Regions from separate parts of the Homo sapiens genome. Here all the other regions are linked to region 1. The links come from fine-mapping of genetic effects on gene expression. A gene starts in region 1. Each other region holds a variant in brackets. All regions are shown on one strand. Distances are from middle to middle.

Region 1 (5,079 bases):
AACACAAATGTGCTGCCACAAAACACAGCTGAGCTCCAGCACCCAACAGGATGTATAATTAATGATCAGGAGAGACAGGCTCCTTCCCCCCTGGTGTTTTCATAGCCAGCCTTCACCCATAGCCCCAGGCTTCCCTACTTCTCTCAGCCGCCAAGGAGGCTGCTACAAGTTGCTGTGCCCTGTAGAAGTTTGAGGGGTCCTCGGTTTAACTTTACTAGAAAAGATGTGAACATGTGGAGGCTGCAATGTGTATCTACCCTGCACTATTCCCCTGGATTTCCCTTCCCTCCAAAACGGTTCGCGCGTGAAGTCCCCTAGGATGGGAATTACTCAGAAAGAAGGCAGCTGGCTCACTCTCTTTTTTCCAGTTCTTTCTTTTTTATTCTGCAGTTTTCTATCAGTGTCGGGTCCCCCACTCCAGCCAGTGGCTGTGGGGAAGGGAAGACATCTCTAGGGACACGACTACAGACCAGGCAGTGAGCCTAGCAACCATACATCGAAGGTGTCGCCAGCCTCAGTGCCGGTGGGCGTCTGCACCAGGAATAGCTAAAGCCGACGACATCTAGCCACCTCGAGCGCCAGGGAAGACGCTCCGCGTAAAACCGCGGCCTCAGGCGGACTCCCGCTCCAGCTCCGCGCTGCTGGTGGCATTTCCGGGGACCCAAAGTGGGTGGCCTGGGGGCAAAGGAACAGAGGCCGAAGAACTTGGGGTATGTTCCACTAGAGCACCTAAGGGACGGAGTGGGAGGTTACATCAGATATGCGACCTCGACACATTCCAAAAGTGGCAGCCCCGTGGGCTACCCCCAATAGTGGGATGGATCTCCCCAACTTCTCTCGCCCCTCGAAGTCCCCCTGTTATCTCGGGCCATGCTCCTCCCCCGGGATTCCCTTGTGCAAAATTATTCTCTCCCTTGCCCAAAGGATTTTTCCCTTCTTTCTGACCCCACGAACTCATCTCCCCAACAGGTTCCTAAAGTATGGGCGGATGTGCTCCCTCTCGCCCACCGCCAGGAGCCGAGCCCCGGCAGGTGAGCGGTGCAAAACACGCACCCAGCTGCCCCCAGCTTCCTCCGTCCCCGCTGAGTTGGCTGTCCCCACCCCGCACCACGGCACCCGAGCCTGTGAGTCCCCGACCCCGGCCCCAGCCGCAGCCGCCAACAACCCTACAATAAACAAGAGGACAGGATTGAGCGTCCGCGTCCCGGAGCGCACTGGCTGGGGGCAACTCCTCACCCCCGGCGCGCCGCCCGCTGCCCCGATCCGAGAGCACCGGGAGAGCCGAGGGAAGGGAAGGCGGCGAGGGGAAGGCAGGCGGGGATGGAGGGAGGCACGGCGCGGCGCGGAGCGAGGAGGTGGGCTGCAGGGGACGCCGAGAAGCGGTGGGGCTGGCGCAGAGGGCGGGCGCCCGGGGCGCGCGTTACCTTCGTCTTGCCCCCGCAGTGGCAGCACACGGTCCACAGGTACTTGAGCGTCCGCCAGAGCAAGATGATGAAGAGGCCCCCGAAGAAAGTCACCATGGAGGAGGCCAGGAAAGCCCACCACATGCGTTGGCCCCGGCTGTCGCACGGCACCTCCATGGTCACCGGGATGATGAGCGCATCCATCTTGGGCTCGTGGACCGAGGACGAGGAGGAAGAGGAGGAGGAAGAAGAAGAAGAGGAAGAGGAGGAGGAGGAGGAGGAGGACGCGTCTAGGCTGAGATGGTTCGCGTGGATATTGCTACTCATTCTAAGACTGCTGCCTCCGCCGCCGCCGCCGCCGCCGCTGCTGCCGCCGCCGCCGCCGCCACCATTTGCCATAGCTAGCAACGGGCAGCCGGCGCAGGGGCTCGGGGGAGCTCCTCCCGCCGCCAGCGCCACCCCAAACACCCATCAACAGCCATATTGCTGCTACTGCTGCCGCCGCCGCCGCCGCCGCGGAGCGCGGGAGGGGGGCGGGGAGGCGCCTGGGCTCGGGGCGCTGTGCGCGACCTGGCGGGGTGCGCCGAGATATATACAGCGAGCCGCCGCCGCCCGCCCGGGGGGGAGGGGGATGGAGTGCGCGGGCAGCTCCCCCTCCCCGGCCCGCGCCCCGCTCGCCCCGGGCTGCGCTGGCCCCGAGCGCCGAGAGCCAGGGGGCGCCGCGGGCCGCCCGCGCCCGGGGTCTGCGCCGCCCCCGGGCCCGCCCCGGCTCCGCGCGCGGTCCCGGGTGTCCTCGGCGCCGCGCCGCCCGCCGTGCGCCACGGGTGTGCGCTGCGCTCGGCCGGTGACCCCCTTCCCCGAGCGCCTCCCGCGCGGCTAACGAGCCGCTCTCCGCTTATTAGGTGGTAACTCGTTAATAATGGATAATCGGCCCCCTCCGCCCGGGCGCCCCTGCGCCAGCCCTCCTCCCCCGGCTGCGCTCGGCTCCGGCTCGCCGCGCCAGTGCGCGCCCGGCCGCGGCAGGTTCACCGCGTCCGGCCGCCGGCCCGTGGCCGCCTGCTAGCCCATGTTCTCGGGACCCCCTAGTCCTGTCGCCACGCCGCTGAGCCCCTCGGCCTCCGCTCGCTCTTCCTCCTTGCCGCCTCCGACTCCTCCTCGTCCCCGTCCTCGCCGCCCAAGCCTCTTCGGCGCGCGCCCCGCGCTCCCCGCAGCCGCCAGCAGCAGCAGCTGCAGCAACTGGAGCGGGCGCGGACTCAGGACGACCCAGGCGGGAGGGGAGGAGGCTCGCCGCGCTGGCTCGCCTGGGCTCCGGGCTGGGCAGGGGTGGGCAGGGCCCCTCGGCAGCGGCCCGGCAAGCGCCCCTGACCCCCAGGGCGCAAGGTAGAGCGCCCCCAGCCCAGGCGCGGGGCCAGGCGCCTCTCTCCAAGGTGCTGCGCCCCCAGCCGAGAGCGGTGGGGTACACTGGGAGGACGGCGGGGCGCCCCGGTCAGGCCGTTTTTTTCCCCAAAGAGCCCCCAGTGGGGAGGGGAGGAGTGGCCAGCTGTCAACTGGATTCCACAGGCTGAGCTCCCCAGGACCCTCGGGCTTCGGGAGTGAGGAGGACCCCACGCCAGGATACACACAGCTACCCACCCCTACTTCGCTCTTCCTGCTACCTATGTGCCCAGGGTCCCGCGTGTGGCTGGAGGGTAGAGTCAGGAAGGCCAGCGGGTGGTCTGTGGCCTCTGACAGCAGCAGGTGGTTTCTCTCCTTTTTCCTTATTAGCAACAGAGGCTGCCCAACAAAGAGTAGGCAGAAATGATCAAGGACGACCTGGCCTGGGGATAGTGCAGGCCCCGATAGACAATAGAGTTCCCTGAAGGGTTGCTTTCCTCTCATATAGTCTCAGACTCCATCCATCCCGTGAGGAGGGCAGATGGGGGAAGAGGGACTCCAGACTTCATTCTGGCTCACCGTTCCCCATTTAGGGTCTTCCCTTCTCCCCACTTAAGATGAAGAAGGAGTCCGTGTTTGTTCCGTAGCGTGTCTCCGTACACCACCAGGGGAATCCCCCTTCTGACACTTTCAGAAACTTTGCGCCCCCTGAACAGCGTCCGTCCTCGTGCTACCAGCTGGACCCCAAGTTTTTCCAGCGCTAATTAAATCGAGGATGATCACGCTCTTCCCTCATTGCTGCAGTGGTTTCCCCAAAGTTTCCAGCTCATTAGTTTAAGCCTAATTGGAATTCTCAGGTTCCTTTCAGCTCTTCCCATGGAAAAGGCCCAAGTTAGCATCCTTAGCTTTACACCTGAGGCTGTCTCCGTGAGAGTCAGATCAGCCCTGCCCTTGTCCTTGGAGGTCTCTGGAAGGAAGAGCGAGCAAGGGAGGCTGAGCTGGGCAGAGAGGCTGAAGAGGATGTTTGAAGCTTCTCTCTTGCTTGATTCGGAATACATTCATTGGGTTTAGAGTACACATCCACTAAGAAAGAGTCAAGGCCAAAGTCAAAGGAGAAAATGGAATGAGGTAAGAGTTCTTGAGTATTTGGTTCTCAAAAAGAAGTGTATGTAAAAGGGAGCTGCAGAAAGTGTGCTCCAGAAAATGGAATTGTCTGAGCCTCCTCTCCATACCATCCCATAGTACCTCCAACCTCGGCCTCTGTGTTCAGCCACTCTGAATGCATCCCTGCCACACCAGACCCAAGCATGCAAAGGCCCTGGGCCTTTTCTGGTACTGGGTTGGGGGAGCGGGACCCAGAAGTGCTGTGGGGATGCGCAGGAAGGTGACTATGGCATTGAGGTTCCTTTATTAGCCTCTCAATGGCTGTAGTTTGCTGCTTTTGTGCCTCAGCAATGCCAAGAAAGTTAAGGACATTCCTTAAATCAAGGCCAAGATTTGAAATTTAAAAATAAAACACCCAGAACATAAAAAGGGCAGCAAAGGATAGGACTGTCTCCCCAGTGGGATATGAAACCTCCAGAATGGATTCCCTCACCCACAAAATTGAAATTTTGCAAACCAGCAAATCCCCTCTGGGGCCTTCTTAGACATTCCCTACAGCCTGGATTCCCCTGAAATGCCAGTCTGGGGTCTACTGGTAAGCAGCCGATGGCCGTGACTTCTGTCACCCCAACTGCAGGATCTATAGCTTTTTCTCCTCCATCATCACCTTCATCACCTCAGCATCTTTGGAGAGGGTGCTTGGAGGCCCCTCAGATGCCATCTCCTGCTCTCTTCATCACCCCTGCCTCTGCTGATTGAAGCTTTTAGCAACTTCTGTGCTGTCCAAAGCCTCGGCTTAGTCAGGAATCATCAGAAACTCTCAGTGTTGATGTCAATATCCTTTCCTTCCTACAATCCCCAGTCTCTCACCTCCTCCCTGAATGGCCTGGCTGGTAAGCACTGAGAGAGTGCTACCATCCACCAGAAATAGACATTCCCAGGCCTTTGCCCAGTTCTCTCTGGCCATTTCCACATTGTTCACAAACTTTTGCACCACTTCCAGAAAACTTGGCCCCTGGCATTACAAATTTAGGAAAAGGCTCTGCACAGACAGAACCTCAAACTTAAAAGGAACCTTAGGTATCTTTGATTTGATGTGTTTCTTCATTTATACAATCAAAATAAAGCCAGAAACTTCCCTGCCTACCTCGAAGGGTTATATGTGAGGATGAAAAAGAAGGCTGGGCATGGTAGCTCA
Region 2 (5,079 bases), 100 kb before region 1:
AGTTACTAAGCACATCTTAATTCCAGAAGGACGCTCTAACATCCCAAAATACTCCAACCAGGGCTCAAAAGTCAAAAGGTCCCACCATTGACTCCTGTTCATCTACCCCACATATCTCAGGACTCATCAGATTTGGTCCAAGAAGTTTATTCCCCTCCTTCCGAAAAATACGGATGGAAGTAGTTATAATTCAGTTTTTTAAAAGACAGCTATTATCAAAAAGTCTGAAAATAACAAATGCTGGCAAGGAAGTGGAGAACAGGGAACATTCATACACTGTTGGTGGGAATGTAAATTGGTACAGCCACTATGGAAAACAGTATGAAGGTTCCTCAAAAAACTAAAAATAGAATTACCATATGATCCAGCAATTCCACTGCTGGGTATATACCCAAAAGAAAAGCAATCACACAGAAGAGATCTCTTCACTCCTGTATTTATTGCAGCACTCTTCACAATAGCCAAGATACGGAATCAACCTGAGTGTCCATCAATGAACAAATGGATAAAGAAAATGTGGTACATATACACAATGAAATGTTATTCAGCCATACAAAAGAATGGAATTCTGTCCTTTGCAGTAACATGGATGGAACAGGAGGACATTATGTTAAGTGAAATAAGCCAGGCACAGAAAGACAAATATGACATGTCCTTACTCATGTGGAAGCTAAAAAACTATCTCATGGAGCAAGAGAGTAGAATGGTAGTTACCAGAAGCTGGGAAGGGTAGTGGGGAGGGGATATTAAGAGGGATTGGTTGATAGGTGCAAACATACAGGTAGATAGAAGGAATACGATCTAGTGTTCAGTAGCACAACAGGGCAACTGTAGTTAACAAGAATTTATTCTACATTTCAAAATAGCTAGAAGAGAATATGTGGGATGCTCCCAATACAAAGAAATGATAAATGTTTGAGGTGATGGTATCCCAGGTGCCCAGAGTTGATCATTACACATTGTGTGCTCACAGCAAACTATCACAGGGGCCTCATAAATACATAAAACTATTATGTATCCATAAAAATTAAGACAAAGAAAGGAAAATGCACTGGCATGTGTATTTTGCGGAATTATTTGGTTTGGCAACTACTCTTTGTCTAGAGATGGAGTTTAGAATTGTCCCTCAGGTTTGAGGCCACAGTTCCTGGCATCTCGGAGCAGGAGGACGCCAGCATCCTTCTTGTTAGAATCAGACAGCATGGGCTTTCCCAGAGCTTACTTCCTGCTGTGGTCTTTCTTCCCAGTGTTGGGAGAATTCCCTCACTTCACTGATCTTCAATATCCTCATTAGTGACAGTAATGCCAATATTTTTATCATTTAGAATGTGCTAGATACAAAGCTAAGGGCTTCATACCTACGAACTCATCTATTCTGTGCAACAGCCTTACTATGAAAATAACATTAGGTACGTTGACTGCCTCCCCCAGGTAGAGATGAGGAAGTAGAGGCACAAAGAGGTGAGTAACTTACTCAGGTTCCCACAGCTTGTGGGCAGGATGTTGGGGTTGGAATTGGGTACTCTGTCTCCCGCACTCTGATATGTCTGTCAGCTGGAAGCAAAAAGGCCCACTTCAGAAGTCATTGACTAAATTTTAAAAGCCAATGATCTAAACACCATAGTGCACCCTCAATTGGTGTCATCACTGGTCTCCTCCCCAGAGCTGCCAACATCCACACCTTTCTCTCAACAGCCATTTGAACACAGGGAGAACACATGATTCACCACAGCCAATGACTGGGAAAAACCAAACACAAAGCTCACCGCATGGAGTGTGATGTCTTGTGTCCCATTCATTTCCCAGTGATTTGCAGGACCTTGTATGGTGTCTGGGAAAAATGTGTATTGACTTTAGTTCATTTCCTTCGTAGGTTCAGCCTCTTATTATTTTATGTTCATATTTATTTTCCAGAGATAGCCCTAAACACGGGACATCACCAGTTCCAGTGAAATCTCCAGGGGGAGTACATAGAGCCCCAGGACAGACAGGAACTGTGTCACCTAACCCAACACTCCCAAGACTTCTGAATGCTCCTAGAACCAAACTCCTCTTCTGCTCCATTGCTTCCCCTCCACCCCCCTGCTCCTTTAATTTCAGTGACAGGAAATGCCTTCCGTTTGGTCCATCCTATGTCATGCATCACTGTGCCAACTCAGGGGACACATTCTTCAGCCACAAGAACACCACCCCAGCAGAACCACATTGAGCCTACAGTGCCCACACCTTGCTCCAAAAGTCACATCCTTGCCCCCACCCAGGGCCCACCTTCCCCAAACCATGGACAAATGCCAGAACCAGGCCTGAGAAGGGCTCTTTCAGAGTCCAAGACACATGAGCTTCCTTGGAAAGCATCTTCCCTATGGAAATTCCCCCCATGACTGCAGAAAAATTAAAATCACTCAGAATTCTCTATTTCTTCTTAGAGTTTCAGAATTGACTTGAAGACACCTAAAATCCTAATCTCACCAACTCTCCATCTCCTCCTCTGCCTCTAAAGGAAGAAAAAAAAATTTTAAAGAATGGACCTAGCATTGAGAAACAGAGAACAATCTATTATTGTGACTATAACAACTCCTAAGGAGCCATCAGAGTCTCGGTGGCACCGCTGGCCCCATCGTCACCCAAATCATCACAGTGGGCCGTTCGGACTGCAACACGCTGCCTGCTCCTCCCGGCGCACATTCTTCCTGGCTCTCCCTCACTGATTTTTTGGCAGGGCTCAGCAGGAATGGAATGGGCTTCCACGCCCGTTATGATGATGGATGGGCAGGCTGCTGGTGGAGTGGGGCCTTTGGGGAGGCACTGTATACACACGCACATACACACACACTCACATACTCTCACATTCGTATACTCTACACGTACTCTCACACACACTCTCATATTCACATACTCTACACACACACTCACACAC[A/G]TCCACATACTCTCACATTCACATACTCTACACACACTCACACACACCCACATACTCTACATTCACATACACACTCTACACATACTCTAAACACACACACATACACTAGACACACTCATACTCACACATACTCTCATATTCACATACTCTACACACTCACAAACACACATATACTGTCACACTCACATACTCTACACTCACACTGCATACATGTGCTATACCCTACACCCTACACATACCCATACACACTCACACTCAAACTCTTGGCCAGCAGCACCCAGGTGAATCCACTGTGGTCTCGTGGGCCAGGATTCTCCCCAAGATCCTTGGTCGCTGAAGCAGCCCCAAACCCGCTTTGTCTGGGTCTCTTCCAACTCTAGAGCTTTCATTGCCATCATTACCCCCAGCTGGACTTCTGAGTCAACCAGATCTGAGTTAGAATCCCAGCTCCACAGCTTACTAGCTGTGTGGCCTTGGCAAGGTCACCTCTCTGAACCTCAATTTCTTCACGTGTGTCTTGGAGAATGCCAGTACTAAACTCCCAGGCTAATATGGAGTCCTCAACAGCCCAGCTAGATGGTGAGTCCCATCTATGATCCATCAATGGCACCCCCTCCCCCACCTTGGTCCCTCTGCCACAGACTCCATGGATCTCCTTAAAACCTAAGGATATGGAGTTAAAATCTGACCCAACAGAGGGCCTCTATGAACCTGTTCTCGTGCCACAAAAGGCATCTAATCCCATTGCTCCCTGCCTGTGAAGGGCTGGTTGTCAAGACTGATTCAGGGGACAGTGTGTGTGGAGTGGTTAGCACAGGGCTCAGCATGAAGGCTCTGCATAGTAACAGCTGCCTCTGAGGCTAGGAGGCTCCGTACATAGGTCCCCCCTCCTGCTGAGCAGTAACCTGTCTCCTTCATGTCACCACCCACGGTCCTACATCTACCCAAGAGGCTGAACACACTCCAATACAGGCTGGTTGGTCCGGGAGGACCCTAGGGAAGAAGCTGGAGACTCTGAGACTTACACCATTCATAAACCAGCTCCCCCACCCTAGGTAAGAGCATATGTCTCTGAGGAACCCACTTTTCTCTTTTCTGTTCCCTCAAGAGCCTGCAAGGCCATTCTCTTATTTGCCATTCCCAACTTCCCAATGAGCTAGCATGATAGGTACTAACGTTCTGCATTTTAAAGACAAGCAAGCACCTAAGTCAGGTTGCTTGTCCAAGATAATGCAGAGATGGAGATGGGATCAAAACCTATGAGTCATCTCCCAACAACGTATCCACTAAAATACCTGCAATTCTAGTTTTACAGGTAAGAGAATAGACATGGGTGGGATAAGTGAGTGGCCTGGGGATACCCAGATAATGGAGCATGGAGGTGAGGCAGAATTGAGCTTGGGGACCGAAACTCTATCCTCTTAAATGGCAGATTTGGGAGACATTCCCTCAAGAATGAACCCAGCTCTGGCAGGGCCCCTCATCCCCAGGTGTCCCCACCAAATTCCTGGCCCCTGCTATTTTGGAAGTCTATCAGAGATGGGCAACACAGACACTGAGGAGCCACGGGTGAATTCCCAGCCCTAATTTTCTGTTCTGTGCTCAGTCTGTGGGCCCTGGGCTTGGGTATCGCCCTCTCTCTGCAGAGTGTGTGCACCACCCACCAATGCAAATGCTGTTGGCCGCTGGGAGAAAGCAAAGCAAAACTTGCTGCCAGCCCAGCTCTGCTTCGTAATCTGCCCTTTGCATTGCTGGGGAAGCAGTGGGAATACAGTTGCAGCTACCTGATGGTACATCTAAAAAAATAACCAGCTAAAGGGGCCCACAGACTCCCACCTGTCCTCTCCTACCCACCACTCTGGGAGAGCAGCGAAGAGCTGCTGTTTCTTTTTTCTCCCACCCCAAGGAAATCAATATGTTGTGCAAAAACAACTCCTTCCAGCAAAACTCCACTTTACACCTACCTCCATCTGGACCATCCCTTGGAGCATCCCCCTAATTCACCAATAATTCCTCCCAGAATCATCATGATTGATTTCACAGACCTGGGTTGCTGCCTGTCCTGCTATGTCCCAGCCAGGTGGAGCAGAGCAGTCACATCCACACTCAGTCCCCAAAAGCTTTGGATCCAGGGTCACAGCCAAAGAGACACATGCCTAGAA
Region 3 (5,079 bases), 76 kb before region 1:
GTTATGACCCATCAGCAGGTCACAGAATCAACTGAATCATTCACAATCAGCATTTTTCAACTGAAACAACAGCACAGAAAACAGAGTACTGCATATTAAAAGGGTTGCTGCATGGAACTTTTGTTTAATTACATACATGAACATAAGTATTGGGTTGAGAAAGAAAAGGTATTTCTTATTCTGGGTTTCAGGGGAAAAAGCTTTTGAAAGCCCCTGATCTAGCTAACTCCACTCTATCATTGATGAGGAAACTGAGGCTCAGAGAACAGCATGGTCAAGGCCACTCAGAGAATGTGCAGCCAGGTGAGGTGGTTCTCAGTCCATGCAGCCTGCGGACTTTGCTTTTCTTCTAAGCAGCTCTGGCTCTGGCCATGGGCATTGGGATTCTGGGATGCTAAGTAGCTGGCTCCTCAGTTCCTAAGAGCTGTGCTCAAGTGGTCTCTAGTGCCATTGAGATTTTCCCCAGCAGAGTAACCCTTAGCACTAGATCTCCTGAGGCTGACCAGGAGGCCCTGAGAAGAGATGCCAGCCAAGCACCCCATCCCCCATTCCCACAGCCTGGTAGTGGGTTTGGGCCCAGCCTCTACATCTCATTCTCTCTTTATAAAGTCTCAAGCAAACTGTGTGGCTGGGACTTTATAATAAACTTGGAGCCTTCTTCAAGCTGAGGCTCCAGCAAACAACTAGATCTTTCTGAGCAGATGCTTCTGCTCTTTAGGCAGGCTTCCTGTCTCTACAGGTGGTCTAGCCCTGGGACTACTGGAAAAATGAGGGAGTGAGGGTGTGCTTTGTGAGAGGCTGGGACAGGGGAACGGCTCCTCCTGACAATGTATGGAAACACTTTTTTTTTTCAATTAAAAATAGCATAGATCACAGATGAGAAACTAACTAGAACTATATAAAAATACAACTTTTTTTTTTTCCAATGGGACCTGCTTAGATAGAAGCTAACATTCCCTGAAAACTATTTGTCAAGCATTGTGCTATGGGCTTCACACACATTATCTCCCTGGATGGTATAGTAGTTATCTCACTTGATATAAAATAAAGTTCAGTGATACCAGTGAATGTATTAATGACATACACAGAGCTATCACTTCTACAGTGCTTATTCTATTCTAAGAATTTTGTGTGTTATTTGATCTCATCATCAGCTTGATACAGTTGGTGCTATTCTCATCCCCACTTTGCGGATTATGAATTGAGGTAAGAAAGGCTACCTGACATGCCCACACTCACATAGATACTAAGTGGTGGGGCCAGGGTTTGAACCCAGATGGTCCAAGCTTTGGACCCTCCTAATTACCTCCACTACACTGGTTATGATTCCTTCCACTTTCTGGCGCAGAAGCAGAGACTCGGGAAAGTTAAATCATTTGTGTCCACTCCACCCAGAAGCTCTCCACGTACACCAGAGGGATGGAAAACATTTAACAATGGGTAAGGCAGGTCCATGACCTTCACAAGGGGCACCATTGGCTAGGCTGGAGACCTCCTGCTATGCTGGAAACTGAGCCATTTTAGGGGCTGCTTCAAGGGGAAACCCAGAGGGTTTCAGAGAAGGGATAAGGTAACAGGGACACTCACAGCACTTAGGGCAATGTCTATTTTAATCAGCAGGGAAGTTTTCCAATATGTTATCAATTTTGGCCACTGCAAACAGCCAAGATAAGACAGTGCTAAAGCTCTTAGTCGAAACTGAATTTTTGCATGTTTCGGGGCTGGAAAGAACTCTTGAGCCATATAGAATTCAACAGCCTCATTTTACCAATGAGGAAACCAAGGCTGCTATGCAAAGCATGGTGCCCAAGGTCAGAGAACTAGTAAATGACAGAGTCAAAATGAAAATCCAGGGTGCCCAGATGCCCAGATTGGTACTTAGGGTGTTTGGTGGTGGTGGTTTGTTTCTTCCCTATCTGTGCTGATTATATTCAATACACAGATGCTGATGTGCATGCACGGGGCCCAGCCCCCAGCTGCTGTGCCACACCCTGACAACCTCAGGATCTTCAGAGAGGCTCAGCTGCTCAAAGTTCCACCAGGGACCATACAAGCTTCATGGATATTCAGATTTTTTTTAGTAAGCACCTGAATTTTGTGTAACTGATTTCCACACCCATTGAAGG[C/T]GGCTTCTAAATTTAGAATTAACATCCAAAGCGGTCTGTTGCACAAATGTATACTTCCTCGCAAGCTGTTGTCAGAAACAGTAAAACTGACATCCATAAAACAGTTTCTTCATACCTTAATAATATTGAACTATAAAAATAGAGGATCTCAAGCAAACAAAGCTGTAACCATAATAACCTTTACAAAGTCTACTACCACAGTCAAGTACTGTCCAGATCTTTTTTTAATGAAAATGTAAAGGTGGCCCCAGCCTTATTCTCACATGACAATGCAATTCCCTAGGCCCAGCATTCCCTCTAGACACTTGTCACTGCCCAATCCAGAACTTTAGTAATTGATCATTTGGGGTAATAACCTGCACCTTATACAATAAAGCCACCTTTGCAGAAACTGCAGCTTCACTTTCATCACTTCCTCCTTTGCCTATTCCAATTAGTTGCTTAGATTCAGTTAGACACGTCTCCCCATACCAAGCACATTCAGTTGTGCCAGGAGGATGGAAGAAGTCTTTCTTTCAAGACATCTTAACAAAGTAGACATTGCAACGCAATAAAGTAGTGAGACTCATGGTTGATGCTTACACACAATCTTCCAACAGAATGCTTTATCATCCCTTGCCCAGAACAGATGGGGAAAAAATTACGCTATGCCCTGAAATTTTCCATTCTTGATCTCAGCCCAAAGGTGACTTTTTTATTTTTAAACTTGAGACTTGAGCAAAAAAAAAAAAGTTCAACTATTTTTGATTCATGCCCAGGCTAAAGAAACACATGGTAAGATTCTTTTTTTTTCCAAACCCGTAGGTAGCTCAAACAGCTAAGCTTCAAAAGCTCAAGCTTTCCAACTAGCACTAATAGTGTTCACAGAGGCAGCACCTCTGCAGTAATTGCAAGGCCAAAAATCAATAGCCGGGGTGAGAAGGAGCTGGGATTCCACTTTCTGGACACATTGTCCCCAGTACCTCTAAATACTTAAAAGAACCGCATAGAATTCTCAAATGTTTAAGCAGGATGGTTGGGCCTGAAGCTTTTCCTCCCTTCTGGGTGATAAGGCAACCCGTCCTCATCACCATTTTTTCATTACCCATCCTTTGATGCATTTCAGTCCTCTCGAGAGTCCAGGCTACCCAGAGAGAACTGACAGGTCTCCTGACTGCCCTCTGTCCCCAGAACTTGCTCTCTTCTACCCCGTCCCTCCCAGCCCTAGCCCCAACACTGACTCCTCTACTCCTTCTACCCTCCCTCCATCCTGCTATTCCCAGTCTCCATAGAGGAAAAAGGGAGTGTCATGCCTAGATGAAAAGATTTGGGGTTCAAGTCACCCCATGTACCTCCCTGGTTCCAACGAACCTCCGGAATTCTAGCCACAGATCCCCCTCTTGCCCTCTCATCCTCCCCTAACACATCCCTACACATTGCAGGCCCAGGGGGGAGTCCACAAAATGGGACTCCATGCATCCATCCTTCTGTGGGGCCGCGTAGCACACCCACGGCAAGACTCCAGTCCCTGGTCCCGGCTCTGCCACTTATGAACTGTGTGCCCATAAGCAAGTCGTCTCTTGCTCTGCAGACTGGGGCTTATCACATTTGTCCCACCTGTCCCAGAGAGCTGTTATGCAAAGTAAGGGGAATCACAGATGTGAACAGGCTTCAGAATCAGAGCTCAATATAAATGTACCTCCTTATTATTAGGCACATGGCACAGTGCCAGGCAGTGTGGTATGTTCCTTGGGGCTAAAGTCCAAGAGATATTGGCAATAAAAGAAAGTGAATTATACCGGGCAGAAAACAAGGAACAAAAAGAGAAGAACAGAGATGAGGATTCACCAGCCTCCAGAGAAGAGTGAATTCACAGTGACAGTGCAATCAATAAAGGCTTCCTGCAAGAGGAAGGCTTTGTATGCAGCCTGAAGTGGCTCTCACCACGCTGATCAAAGGTGATTTCATGGCCAGGCATGGTGGCTCATGCCTGTAACACGAGCACTTTGGGAGGCCGAGGCGGACAGATCACTTGAGGTCAGGAGTTCAAGACCAGCCTGGGCAATATGGTGAAACCCCATCTCTACTAAAAATACAAAAATTAGCCAGGTATTTTTTTTACAGGTGGCACATGCCTGTAATCCCAACTACTCTGGAGGCTGAGACAGAAGAATCACTTGAACCTGGGAGGCAAAGATTGAAGTGAACCAAGATCACACCACTGTACTCCAGCCTGGGCAACAGAGCAAGACTCTGTCTCAAAAATAAATTTAAATTTAAATGTAAAAAAGGTGATTTCATGCATGCCCCTTCCCAAGACCAAGCGCTCTTTGAGGGCAGGTGACATGTCTTTATGTCTCAGCCTTCGCAGCTTCCTCCTGGCATCTAGGTGAAAGAAAGAATGAATGGAGCCTTGAACTAACCAGGAACTCAACTAAGTGGAAAAGAGGAGAGACTCCCAGATAGCAGAGGGAAGACAAGCTGGGGTCAGAGGGCGGACTCTTTGGCTTAGGAGTAGAGGAGTTCAGAAGTTCAGGCTTCTGATCACAAAGGGAGGTAAAAGGAGTTCAGAGGAGTCAGTGACATCATGAAATCAGTATTTGGGGAGCTTAATTGGGCAGCTGCATGCAGGATATGCAGCAGGGGGTGAAGGAAAGCTGGCAGAGTGGCCAGGAGGCAAGGGCAATGAGTCAGGCAGACGGTGAGAAGGGAAGCCACTGCCTCTCGGCCAAATCGCCCTCTGGGAGCACCCATCTCTGTCCCAGTGGAAGCCCCATCAAGGGCCACTCTCAGTGACTGTCCTCTTTAGGCTGGACCTTAAGTGTCCCCTAGTCCTCCTGCCTTGCACCCAGCACTGGCCTCCTGCAAGTGGTTACCTTCCCCTTGTGAATCCCTCCAGGCTCAGGGATTCCAGGGATTCCAGGGATTCCCTCCCATTCCCGTTTTAGAGGACAACGCGGATGGTAAGCACTCC

Which allele goes with the higher level. Alleles are on the strand shown, and positions count from the first base shown. SD is a standard deviation of normalised expression in the study named. Not every link is listed here.
In carriers of allele C in region 3, the expression in monocytes after interferon gamma of the gene that starts at base 1,968 in region 1 tends to be lower than with T alone (large effect, 1.0 SD a copy in Fairfax 2014).

Evidence for each region. PIP is the estimated chance that this variant, and not a neighbour inherited with it, causes the effect. A credible set is the group of variants that fine-mapping cannot tell apart.
Region 2: its variant is the best candidate, but not a certain one, in a credible set for the expression of KCNMA1 in monocytes (TOPMed, PIP 0.77).
Region 3: its variant is the best candidate, but not a certain one, in a credible set for the expression of KCNMA1 in monocytes after interferon gamma (Fairfax 2014, PIP 0.89).

Annotation. Positions count from the first base shown.
Region 1 is chr10:77,635,841-77,640,919 of GRCh38, forward strand. KCNMA1 (potassium calcium-activated channel subfamily M alpha 1) reads right to left here and starts at 1,968. Exons shown (of 28, transcript NM_001161352.2): 1 at 1,425-1,968. The coding sequence starts at 1,802.
Region 2 is chr10:77,535,160-77,540,238 of GRCh38, forward strand. The region is part of intron 1 of KCNMA1 (potassium calcium-activated channel subfamily M alpha 1); the gene reads right to left. LOC124902464 (a long non-coding RNA gene) reads right to left here and starts at 2,862. Exons shown (of 2, transcript XR_007062205.1): 1 at 1,767-2,862; 2 at 1-1,554. The variant A/G (reference allele first, on the strand shown) is at 2,918.
Region 3 is chr10:77,560,218-77,565,296 of GRCh38, forward strand. The region is part of intron 1 of KCNMA1 (potassium calcium-activated channel subfamily M alpha 1); the gene reads right to left. Among named protein-coding and RNA genes, the nearest start is that of KCNMA1, 75 kb to the right of the region's middle. RefSeq lists enhancers at 4,051-4,907, 4,908-5,079 and a silencer at 4,874-5,079. The variant C/T (reference allele first, on the strand shown) is at 2,127.